Homo sapiens: one gene and its partner. The protein of the gene in region 2 interacts with the protein of the main gene of each other region in a biochemical or structural test. Each region holds a gene or a part of one and is shown on either strand. Other genes may lie near its edges.

Evidence for each region. The genes of interacting proteins can lie anywhere in the genome.
Region 1: the proteins of GAK (region 2) and CCNG1 form a complex in vitro, tested with the Homo sapiens proteins (one study listed by BioGRID).

The regions. Positions count from the first base shown.
Region 1 is NC_000005.10:163,440,595-163,445,516, reverse strand, and holds the end of CCNG1 (cyclin-G1), read right to left. Parts: intron 4,440-4,922; coding exon 4,186-4,439; intron 3,632-4,185; coding exon 3,553-3,631; intron 3,473-3,552; coding exon 3,374-3,472; intron 3,144-3,373; coding exon 2,952-3,143; coding exon of another isoform or gene 2,949-2,951; intron 1,844-2,948; coding exon of another isoform or gene 1,777-1,843; 3' UTR 501-1,776; downstream 1-500. UniProt on the Homo sapiens protein: May play a role in growth regulation. Is associated with G2/M phase arrest in response to DNA damage. May be an intermediate by which p53 mediates its role as an inhibitor of cellular proliferation.
Region 2 is NC_000004.12:866,285-873,407, reverse strand, and holds part of GAK (cyclin-G-associated kinase), read left to right. Parts: exon of another isoform or gene 1-107; intron 108-182; exon of another isoform or gene 183-340; intron 341-2,503; coding exon 2,504-2,697; intron 2,698-4,722; coding exon 4,723-4,869; intron 4,870-5,975; coding exon 5,976-6,452; intron 6,453-6,873; coding exon 6,874-7,044; intron 7,045-7,123. UniProt on the Homo sapiens protein: Associates with cyclin G and CDK5. Seems to act as an auxilin homolog that is involved in the uncoating of clathrin-coated vesicles by Hsc70 in non-neuronal cells. Expression oscillates slightly during the cell cycle, peaking at G1.

The DNA of each region.
Region 1 (4,922 bases), on a different chromosome or scaffold from region 2:
GCGCCACTGCACTCCAGCCTGGGTGACAAGAGTGACCCTGTCTCAGAAAAAACAAAAAGTAAAGTGTCAGCTAATAGTCATACTATTAATAGGGATTTTATTGTTTCTGGTACTATGCATCTAACTTTAGTACTAAATTTAAATATACTGGGTAGAGAGAGCTTTTTATAATGTTTCAGAAAAAACAAAACAAAGTGTCAGCTAATAGTCATATTATTAATGGGGATTTTATTGTTTCTGGTACTATGCATCTAACTTTAGTACTAAATTTAAATATACTGAGTAGAGAGAGCTTTTTATAATGTTTCAGAAAAAACAAAGTAAAGTGTCATCTAATAGTCATATTATTAATAGGGATTTTATTGTTTCTGGTACTATGCATCTAACTTTAGTACTAAATTTAAATATACTGAGTAGAGATAGCTTTTTATAATGTTCTGTTAACACATTGCTAAAAGAGTTAATTAAATCAGAGGAGAAAAAAGCCACCCAGCAAAGGATTGAATTTCATTAACTTTATTGAAAGGTATATCCCTTAGTACTAAAACATAATGGTAGTTGGTTAGTTTACCTCTGCCAACTCAAAATTAACAATGATGTATTCAAAATATTGAAATTTATCAGCCTTTTGGGAAAACTAAAAAGTTACCCATAAAACATGGTTTACAAAAGTTAAGAATAAGATATACTGTGGTTCTTTGGTTTTTCATTGTGTACTGATCCATAACGTGATGTCAAATTGGATATAGCCATCATGGATAGACTCAGGCTATACATTGCACTGAGTAACTGTTTACAACACTTTAACACTGTACTTCTTACATTCACTAACTGCCATGGAGGATCCTAAACACTACTTCAGCAGCTTCATTCATAGTTATGAAGGTGTCTACTTGCTTTTCTTAAGATTTTTGTTTTGGCACAGTAAGGGCATCAGTGGAAGTATATTCTCTATTTATAAAATTGCCATCACTTCTAACTTAAAAACAGTCTGTAGTAAAAAATTCTGGAGTGTTCAATCTAGTCTGAACTTACCTTAGTGTGGGAAAGCAAGTTTTCGAAGTGATAATTTATTTTGAGTTACTAATACAATAGAAACTAGTTTTCTTGATGGGATTCAGTTTGAGGCAGTAGGTTCTGTATAAAAATTTTTATCGTAGATACAAATGTCACCTGTTTTCTAGAAAAAAATATTAAAAGATAACTTAATGAATATGCCAAACTTTATAGGTCTGTATTTTTCTTTATATAAAATGCCCTCAAATTTAAATGTAATTCCCATATAGCAATAAAGTCCACATCTCTAGATTACCTATTACTTGCATTATGGGGTGTGTTTATACTGCCTAGAATGTTAACCCTTATTATGCCTTAAAAGTACATTTGTGAAATGTTGCTTTTGACATAAACCTCATAACTTAAAATTTAAGTAGGAGTAGGATTAGAATAATGACAGTGATTGAAGCTGTGGGAAGACTGATAGTTGATAGTATTAGTGTGACTCCTCCAATAGCATTTTCAATACCACCTAAATATATTGATCCAATATCTAAAGTTAGATCAATGATAGAAATGAAGATTCACAGTTTACCTTCTCAGGCTTGTCATTAGCATTTCACATTTAGGCTTTTAGCTTTGATTTGAATGCTTCACAGATGAATTCAAATCTAAACATAATTCCACTACAGCATAATATTAGGCAGTTTTCCCAAGTCTGAGACCATCATGCTTATCTCGTGATGTTTTGAGGCTTCATAGCTTAAATCCATTGTAACATTATGGAATCCATAGAACAAGGTTGTGGAGAAAGGCTTCAGAGAAGTTTTTTGGTGCTGTAATAATCCTATTTAAATAAAGAAAACAAACAAAATCCAACTTAACAGAAGCCAGTCTGCCTAAATACTACTAAGAAAATTGAAATGTTCATATCTAATATTCATAATCACATGTAGATGTATTAAATGTTAACATTTAGTTTTGAGTAGAATAAATCATCACTGAGTTAGGAAATTTATATGGCAAGAATGTATATCACATATGCAGAAAGCAAGTTTACATTTTTTATGCATATAACTACTTTGCAGTAGTCCAGCTGCTATAGCAATGATAGGTTAGTATAGTGTTGACACACTCTGGCAGTTTCCAGATACCCAATGTAGAGACCATCTATCATATCCTACTTTTTTTCTTTTTTTTTTTTTTTTTGTGGCGGAGTCTTGCTCTGTCGCCCAGGCTGGAGTGTAGTGGCGCGATCTCAGCTCACTGCAAACTCCGCCTCCCGGGTTCCCGCCATTCTCCTGCCTCAGCCTCCCGAGTAGCTGGGACTACAGGCGCCCGCCACCGCGACTGGCTAAATTTTTTTGTATTTTTTAGCAGAGACGGGGTTTCACCATGTTGGCCAGGATGGTCTCGATCTCCTGACCTCGTGATCCGCCCGCCTTGGCCTCCCAAAGTGCTGGGATTACAGGCGTGAGCCACTGCATCCGGCCTACTTTTTTTTCTTTTAAGTACAATATCCAAGTTCATATTGATTTTGCTTATAAGCTAACAGTCTCAAATTAGTTCATACTTGGTTCAGACTTTTGGTGCTGTTGTCCTGCTCAGCTTATGTAATTTTAAATCAGTCAGATACATACAGCAAGATCATGTGCAATTAAAAAAAAGCATGATTTTAGTGCTACAAGGAGGATGCTGTTCTCTAAGCTGAAAATTTAATGAAATGGCTAACGTATGTATCAGAGGTTGGATAATTCCTTACTCCTAAGATGTTGTACCTTGTATATAGTAAAGGCCTTCAAATATTAGCTGACTAGATCAGTGATGTCATCTCCCCCTTTACTATTCCAACTCCATTTTGTTTATTTTGAAGATAATTACTCTTCTTTAGTTGAAAATTATGGCATTGGAAAATGTTCTCTATCTGGAGAATAATAACGGACCAAATTTACCAGTTAAGGGACCATTTCAGGAATTGTTGGAAGGTGAGTTATTCTGTAGTAGCTATGCTTCAATTGCCGTGCAGTACGCCCAGAAACAATCCATTTCAACTTCTGAACATTTGGTTTGGAACACTTATTTGATGAATATTCAGTTAAACATTTGGATACAAGCTCTTGCCAGAAGGTCAGATCTCTGCCATTTATCTGTACATACATAAATTTTAAAAAATTATTACTCCAAGTAAGTCCCACCTTATTTAACTACATTAATAAATGCAATCCTATGAACATGTGTCTTTGCTCATTAAAAACATTTGAGGATAGCTACTTAAGTTTCAAATAAACATATGACATCTCATTTTACTTCAGGAGATAGAAGGGGTTTAGTTTCTTTTACAGCTGTTAATAGGATTTAGGCTATGTCCTTCACATACCTTGGAATGTTTCTGAAGACATTCTATTCCTTCTGTTAACTCTACACACTTCTGTGCTTGGATCTCTAATGCAATGATAGACAATGCCAACACAGAAGGCTAAAAGAGATAAATTTAAAGTAAATGCCAAATATAAAAACAGATCATATCAATAGGCATAATCTTTATAAAATATTTACCTTTGCTTTAGAAAATATGATCCTGCAATGACATGCCTTCAGTTGAGCTTCTAGTCTTTCAAAATTAATGCTATTTCTCCTTTAAAAAGAAAATGGTATTACTTTTATTAGGTAATACTACATCTAGTCAAAAGATGTTTTTAGAAAAACATTGAAGTCAATTTTTAAAGTAAAGCTTATGCACACTTAACATAGCAAATGAACTATTGAAAGGAATTCCCCTTCCATCAGAGATACTAACTTCTAAAGGCACCATATGGGAGTTTTAGATGATTTGGGCCAAAAAATTAAAATGAATAGTACTATGCCACAAATACAAGATTTATTTTCTTTTAGTTTTAATAAATATTTCAACATCCACTGAAGGTCCTTTTTTTCCATAAATTTGTGTTAGATGCTTTCCTACTAGGTTCTATAAAGTCAAAATGTACTTTAATCCCAAGAATTAGCTTTAACGAAGCTATTGACAATGGAACATTTTCTCACTTATGATGGACATTAAAGTTCAAGGAGCCACAGCTGTCATTTTACTTATTTTTATTAGAATTCTATGAGGATACTGATTTTATGCAATATCCATACAATACCATTCTGATTTCCAAATGTCTCTTGTTCAAAACAAAGGTCACTTACCTTTCAAGTGGCAAGTTCTCTTGAAGGAGTGAATAATACAGTTGCAGAAATTGAAAGGCAGTAGTAGCTTTGACTTTCCAACACACCTTCTCCAATACAATCTTTTCCATTCTCATCAAGTCTGAAACCGTAAACCTATATTGACTTATTCGGATCAAGTCAGTTGCCAATGGGACATTCCTTTCCTCTTCTATTGATTTTACAGCCAAATAAAAGCAGCTCAGTCCAACACACCCAAGGTGCTTGGGCTGTACCTAAAAAATCAAAAACAAAACCAGTAAGCCCATGACTCTACCTTATTTCAATTAAAACATAAAGGATAATCTAGAACTCCGACCCAACATTTTGAAAATGTATATTTGAGGTTTATTTCTCAGCTGTGATGGACTTAACACAATCCACTCATACCTAAACTATAGCCTGTCAACACTATGGACCCCACTTAGAACCAATTTTTGAGTAACTGGACTGAGTTTCAGTATAATGTTTGGCTCAGCATAGAAAAAGTGTGTTTTTATTAATCACTGTAGAACTATAAGTAAACATTGTTCTAGTTTGATCAAATAAGTTAACTAGTCAAAGATATATGAGGACTGAAATACTTTATGGCTTATTTACAAAATAAGCCATTTCTTTGCAGGATGTTGTATTTTTTCCAGGCTCTTGTCTTTGTGGGAACACATATAAAACAGTTTTAAAATACTATGGCATATACTGTTTACTCTGCCTCTAAGAGT
Region 2 (7,123 bases):
GGACTCCACGTTGGGTCATACAGCAAGTCTCAAGGCATCTCAACAGTGGATTAAAGTGGGAATCAGTGACAGGAAAACACCCAGAGACCGTATGCTCGTTAAGTGACCTGTGTGCCAAAAAGGAAATCACTGTTGAAATGAGAAAATATTTTAAACACATTGATAATCAAAATACCACTTACCAGATGTGTGGGGTGCATCTGAAGCAGGGTTTAGAGGAAATGTGTAACTTCAAATGCATACATTAAAAGGAAGAAAGGTTGGTTGCGCACAGTGGCTTACAGCTGTAATTCCAACACTTTGGGAGGCAGGAGGATTGCTTGAACCTGCGAGATCAAGGCTGCGCTGTGGGCGAGAGGCGTGTTCCCTGCGTGGTGAGCCTGCGCCGTGCCTGGGCGAGAGGCGTGTTCCCTGCGTGGTGAGCCTGCGCCGTGCCTGGGCGAGAGGCGTGTTCCCTGCGTGGTGAGCCTGCGCCGTGCCTGGGCGAGAGGAGCACAGGGTTGCAGCCATGGCACAGATGTAACAGCTGAGCCTGTCAGGAGTCCGCTCTGCCCTGTTGGAGCTAGTCTGGCAGGAGCCTGCGGGCAGTGTCCTCTGCAGTCCAGGGCTCTCGGGAGTGGCCAGCCCTGCTCACAGACCTCATTGTGCCCTCAGCGCCAGGCTGGGTGAGCCGAGCCTGCAGGCCCAGTGCCCAGGGCCATCTCAAGGGGCAGCTGGGGGAGGGAGGCTGGGCATGAGCGGCACTCCCTCTGGGGCTGCCCAAGTTCGGTCTGTCCCAGGACCCAAGCCCGTCTGGCCGACCTGGCTCCCTGCACACTCCCTCCCTCCGTGCCCCTCCCACTGTGCCTCTCCGCCCTCGGTCGTGGCCGGTCTGAGCCTCCGCTGCGGTGGCCGTCGGATTCTCTGCTGGTGCCTGCAGGCTCCTCTGCAGACGTTGCCTCCTCCACATCTCCACGCCAGCTGTGCCACCGCTGTGCAGTCCCTGCCACCCCTGACGACAGACAGCGGCACGCAAAGAGGCTCGGGCGCAGGGGGAAGCTCGTGTTGGCCCCGGCTGGAGTGCACATCAGTCCCGGCTTCGGCCGTGGCCACCTCCGCCCAGAGCCTTGAGTGGGCATTGAGGGGGCGCTGCTCTGCGTGAGGTTGGCCACCCCTCAGGGCGGGCACAGGGTGCTCTCCCCTCGTGCAGGGAGAGGATGTTTTAGAGGGTGAGCAGGAAGGGGTGAACTAGAGGCCTTTCACACATCACAGGCATGTGTGGAGCTCAGAGAAGTGACAGTTAAAACCAGCCGTGGCTCTGACCCACACAGGCCGCCGGGCCCGTCTCCCTGCCCTCCCTCGGCGGATCCCACTCTGCTCTGGGTGTTCCTGGCCCTGCAGACACTGGCAGCCTGGGTTTCCCAGGAACTGGCCGCCACTCTTTTGTGTTTCTTCTTTATTTTCTTAGGTGTATAACATTCAACATGTAGAGATTTTAGGTGGCGTAAAATAAGACAGGCATGGGGAGCCTGCTGCCCGCTGGAGAGCCCAGGCTTATCAGTGCAGTTTATGACAGTGGGATCAGAGATGATCATAGGAAATGTGTGAAATAGCCTGGAATTCCTTAGAGAGCTGTGGGGCTGGGAAATGGTCAGTGTCAGGTCACACCTGCCTCCCCGTGCGGCCAACACCCCAAGGCGGGCCCTGCTGACCCCTGCCCCTGCTCCCCACCCACATGGCCGACACCCCAAGGTGGGCCCTGCTGACCCCTGCCCTGCTCCCCACCCGCACGGCCGACACCCCAAGGCAGGCCCTGCTGACCTCTGCCCTGCTCCCCACAGCTCAGCCTGGGCTGCCTCCCCAGCCCCACAGTGAACACAGCTTTGTTTCCCCCGGAATCATGTTCCCAATTCCCTGGCAGCCGGATTCTAGAGGTCTTGGTTTTATGGGCATCTGTTGACAGTTGTGGATTTTTGTCAGGGCGGACGTCGTCATTTTTATGGAAAACACATTTAGTATCCCAGAGTGCGTGCTCTGAGCTGCCGGGTGGCTGCAGTCTGTGTGTGCTGGGTAGTGAGGGCCAGCGCCTGCCTTGGAACCCTGGGGTCCCACCTCAGAGCTGCCTGCCTGGGTGCCGGAGTCTCCAGCTGTGGGATGTTGTCCCGTCTGCTCTGAGCACGTGGCCTCCCCTGGAGTTGCAGGAAACATGGCGGCCCCGCCCGGTGCCCCTCTGCCTTGAACACAGTCGCGGGCATCCCCACTGTGACGTCCGAGGAGCGAGTGAAATGATGCTCTTCTGGGGCCGTGACCGGGGGTGCTGGTGCCCTGTGGGTTCCTGGGACAGCTGCTGGGTCAGCTCACAGGGCTCCAGCTTCCGCAGGCGGGGGTGGCCGGCTGCCCTGGTTGTTCTCGCCCCGCTGCCTGCAGCTGCCACCTGTTTCCATGCACGTTTCTTTAGTGAATGTCCAAGGACTTACAGACTACTTGGGTGGCCTTCCTAAGTGGTGTCTACTTGTAACCGCAGGTATGACCTGGACGCGTGTGACATTCAAGAAAAATACCCGGATTTATTTCAAGTGAACCTGGAAGTGGAGGTGGAGCCCAGGGACAGGCCGAGCCGGGAAGCCCCACCATGGGAGAACTCGAGCATGAGGGGGCTGAACCCCAAAATCCTGTTTTCCAGCCGGGAGGAGCAGCAAGACATTCTGTCTAAGTTTGGTAAGATCCCGCAGGTGAATTAGGTGAACCCTGTTCTGGTGAGTGTCTCTGTGGAGAGAGACACCTTTGGCTGAGCTCTGGCAGGGCTGGGCCCCACGCCTGCTGCTGCACCCAGGCCCTGAGCAGCTTGGGCTGCAGGAGGTTTTGGAAACTCCGTCGTGGATGTTGGACACCACCACCAGCTACACCAGAGAAGGACTCGCAGGCTGCAATTTCTGAGGCCCATGGGCAGGGACGGAGGCAGAGGGAGGAAAACCCAGGCTCCTGGAGCGAAGCGGGGTTTTGTCCCAGGCGTGTGTCTGGGTCAGATTTTTGTCATGTGTGCTGGACACACGTCCACTCTCACTGTGAGCCTCAGGCCTGCTGGCAGCATGTGGAACAGAACCCTCGCTCCTGTCGCTCTTCACTTCCGAGCAGTTTCGAAACGGCAGCCCAGGAAGTGCTGGCAGGTGGGCCCAGGGCCGTCCACTGCTCATGCCACGCTTGTTCTCGGCTCTTGGTTTGCAGTGTTTGCTTTTTCTTTCTGAGCATCTTCAGCGTCCCTGAAAGAGGCTGTATGTGTGACCTGTGCGTGCTGTGTATGTGTCCGTGGGTGGTGTGTGCCGTGTGTGTGTGTGCACGAGTGGTGTGTGCATTCATGTGTACTGTGTATCTGTGTGCTGTGTGCATTCGTGTGTACAGTGCATCTGTGTGTGCTGTGTGTGCGTTCGTGTGTACCATGCATCGGTATGTGCTGTGTGTGCGTTCGTGTGTACCGTCCATTTGTGTGTGTGCATGCATGTGTACTGTGCATCCGAGTGTGTGCATGTGTGTGTACCGTGCATCTGTGTGCGTGCATTCATGTGTACCCTGCATCTATGTGTGCTGTGTGCATTCATGTGTACTGTGCCTGTGTGTGTGCATTTGTGTGTACCATGCATCTCTGCTGTGTGTGCATTCGTGTGTACTGTGCATCTGTGTGTACTGTGTGCATTCATGTGTACTGTGCATCTGTGTGTGCTGTGTGTGCATTCATGTGTACCCTGCATGTGTGTATGTGCTGTGTGTGCATTCGTGTGTACTGTGCATCTGTGTGTGTGCATTCATGTGTACCCTGCATGTGTGTATGTGCTGTGTGTGCATTCGTGTGTACTGTGCATCTGTGTGTGTGCATTCATGTGTACCCTGCATGTGTGTATGTGCTGTGTGTGCATTCGTGTGTACTGTGCATCTGTGTGTGTGCATTCCTGTGTACCATGCATCTGTGTGTGCTGTGTGTGCATTCCTGTGTACTGTGCATTTGTGCTGTGTGTGCATTCATGTGTACCGTGCATCTGTGTGTGCTTTGCATTCGTGTGTACCCTGCATGTGTGTATGTGCTGTGTGTGCATTCGTGTGTACTGTGCATCTGTGTGCTGTGTGTGCATTCATGTGTACTGTGCATCTGTGTGTGTGCTGTGTGTGCATTCATGTGTACCCTGCATCTGTGTGTGTGCTGTCTGTGCATCCGTGTGTACCATGCATCTGTGTGTGCATTCATGTGTACTGTGCATCTGTGTGTGCTGTGTGTATTCATGTGTACCCTGCATCTATGTGTGTGCTGTCTGTGCATTCGTGTATACTGTGCATCTGTGTGTGCTGTGTGTGCATTCGTGTGTACCCTGCATCTGTGTGTGTGCATTTGTGTGTACTGTGCGCCTGTGTGTGTGCTCTATGCATTCGTGTGTACCGTGCAGCTGTGTGTGTGCATTCATGTGTACCCTGCATATGTGTGGCGTTTGATGCCTCAGTGGTGGGTTCCTTGTGCGTGTTCATGTGTGCGTGTGCTGTGCCCAAGTGTGCACGCATGGCCCAGAGTGGCATCCGAGTGGATAGCAGGAATCTGTTCAGAGAGCCCCTCCCCGTCATGTCATTGGTCTGCTTTACCGATGGCCTGGCCTGCCACGGTGCTGGCGCCCGCCTGGCTGCACTTCCCAGCTCTGGGGTCAGTGTTGCCCCGAGGCTGCTGGCCAGTGCCAGTGCCCTGACGCCCTCCCTCTCCTGCAGGGAAGCCGGAGCTTCCCCGGCAGCCTGGCTCCACGGCTCAGTATGATGCTGGGGCAGGGTCCCCGGAAGCCGAACCCACAGACTCTGACTCACCGCCAAGCAGCAGCGCGGACGCCAGTCGCTTCCTGCACACGCTGGACTGGCAGGGTAGGCAGCGTCCCTGGACCTGGCCACTTGCAGAGGGCAGGCCCCTGGTCTGGAGGTGCCCCTGGGGCAGGGCAAGCGTCTTGGGAGACGGGCCTCCGGCAGAGCTGAGTTGCACCTCAGTGGGGCTGTGCACCCGGCATGTCAGCCTGTTCTTTAATGGCTCACGAGCTAAGAATGATTTCATATCTTTTTAAAGGTGAAAAAAAAAGAACATGCCCACAAAGTCTGAAATAACAACCCTCGCTCTTCATCCCAGTCTGTGGGCCTGGGGAGGCTGGCAGCATGGGCCATGCTGGCGGGGCCCCTGGGTACAGGGGAAGGGCCTGGGCGGAGGGACAGACTGTCACCACCTGGGGATCCCACACCTCTCTTTGCCCACACCCCCAGTGGGCTCCCAGCCCCTCTGAGGCTTTTCAGGAAAACACCTGGGCGCCATCACTGGACCTCACCCCAGACACACCCCAAGGGATGCACCTGCCACTTCCTGTCCCAGCACCCCTGGCCTTCCCATCGGGCTCGTCCCTTCTGCCGCCTGTTCCCAGAGCACCCTTGATTGGTGTTCCTACCCCCTAGTGCTGCCATGTGGCCCCCACTTGACTCAGCCTGAGGCACCGCAGAGGCCCAGGCGGAGAGAGCCACAGGCAGACCCTTGAGGCAGAGGCTGGAGGTGGGTGTGCTGGAGACGCCTCAGGAACAACACCCCACCGCCCGCCCAGAAGCTTCTGCAGCACTCGCCAGGGCCCTGGGCCAAGGAGGCGCTGAGGGGCCGTGCCATGGGGACATTGGTGCTGGCCATGTGGGTTCGCCAAGGCCCTGGGCTGAGGGGACGCGCCGTGGGGACCCTGGTGTTCCTGCAGCACTTGCCAAGGCCCTGGGCCGAGGAGGTGCCGAGGGGCCATGCCATGGGGACCCTGGTGCTGGCCACGTGTGTTCACCAAGGCCCTGGGCCGAGGAGGCCCTGAAGGGACGCGCCGTGGGGACCCTGGTGCTGGCCACGTGTGTTCACCAAGGCCCTGGGCCGAGGAGGCCCTGAAGGGACGCGCCGTGGGGACCCTGGTGCTGGCCGTGTGGTCTCACTAGCCTGTGGTTTTGTTTCCTTTTCGCAGAAGAGAAGGAGGCAGAGACTGGTGCAGAAAATGCCTCTTCCAAGGAGAGCGAGTCTGCCCTGATGGAGGACAGAGACGAGAGTGAGGTGTCAGATGAAGGGGGATCCCCGATCTCCAGCGAGGGCCAGGAACCCAGGGCCGACCCAGAGCCCCCCGGCCTGGCAGCAGGGCTGGTGCAGCAGGACTTGGTTTTTGAGGTGGAGACACCGGCTGTGCTGCCAGAGCCTGTGCCACAGGAAGACGGGGTCGACCTCCTGGGCCTGCACTCCGAGGTGGGCGCAGGGCCAGCTGTACCCCCGCAGGCCTGCAAGGCCCCCTCCAGCAACACCGACCTGCTCAGCTGCCTCCTTGGGCCCCCTGAGGCCGCCTCCCAGGGGCCCCCGGAGGATCTGCTCAGCGAGGACCCGCTGCTCCTGGCAAGCCCGGCCCCTCCCCTGAGCGTGCAGAGCACCCCAAGAGGAGGGCCCCCTGCCGCTGGTACGTGTTTCTGTTCTGAAGGCGAGTGGCTTCACAGTAGATGAGTGATGAGGCTGAGTCATTCTCACTGCATGGGCGTGTTTCGAAGGTGCTTGCAGGAAGGGAACGTGCCCTTCCCCCACCTCCCCCAGGAGCAGCCTCGGGGTCATGTCAGGGTTCTGTGCTGCCCACCTGAGCTCACGGGCCGGGAGCTACTGGCTTCTCCATCTCAGCAGTGTTGCTGTGTCCCTGGGAAAGTCATCCTGAGGCGTGGGGCACGGGGAGCCCCTGGGCTGACTGCCTCAGTGCCCCTGCGAGGGCAGCCGTGGGGTCTGGGCTGCCCAGCTGGAGTGGCCTCTTGGGCAGGCCTGACTCCAGAGCTGGGCTCCTTTGTCTTCAGGCAGCCGGGCTGAGTCCTCCCCATGCCCGCCTGTCCCCACAGCTGACCCCTTTGGCCCGCTTCTGCCGTCTTCAGGCAACAACTCCCAGCCCTGCTCCAATCCTGATCTCTTCGGCGAATTTCTCAATTCGGACTCTGTGACCGTCCCACCATCCTTCCCGTCTGCCCACAGTGCTCCGCCCCCATCCTGCAGCGCCGACTTCCTGCACCTGGGTAAGTGCCTCTCGCCTGGCAGCCAGCTCTCCATGGCCGCCTCCCTCAGGACCGCAGCCTCTGGTGGGAAACAGAGCTG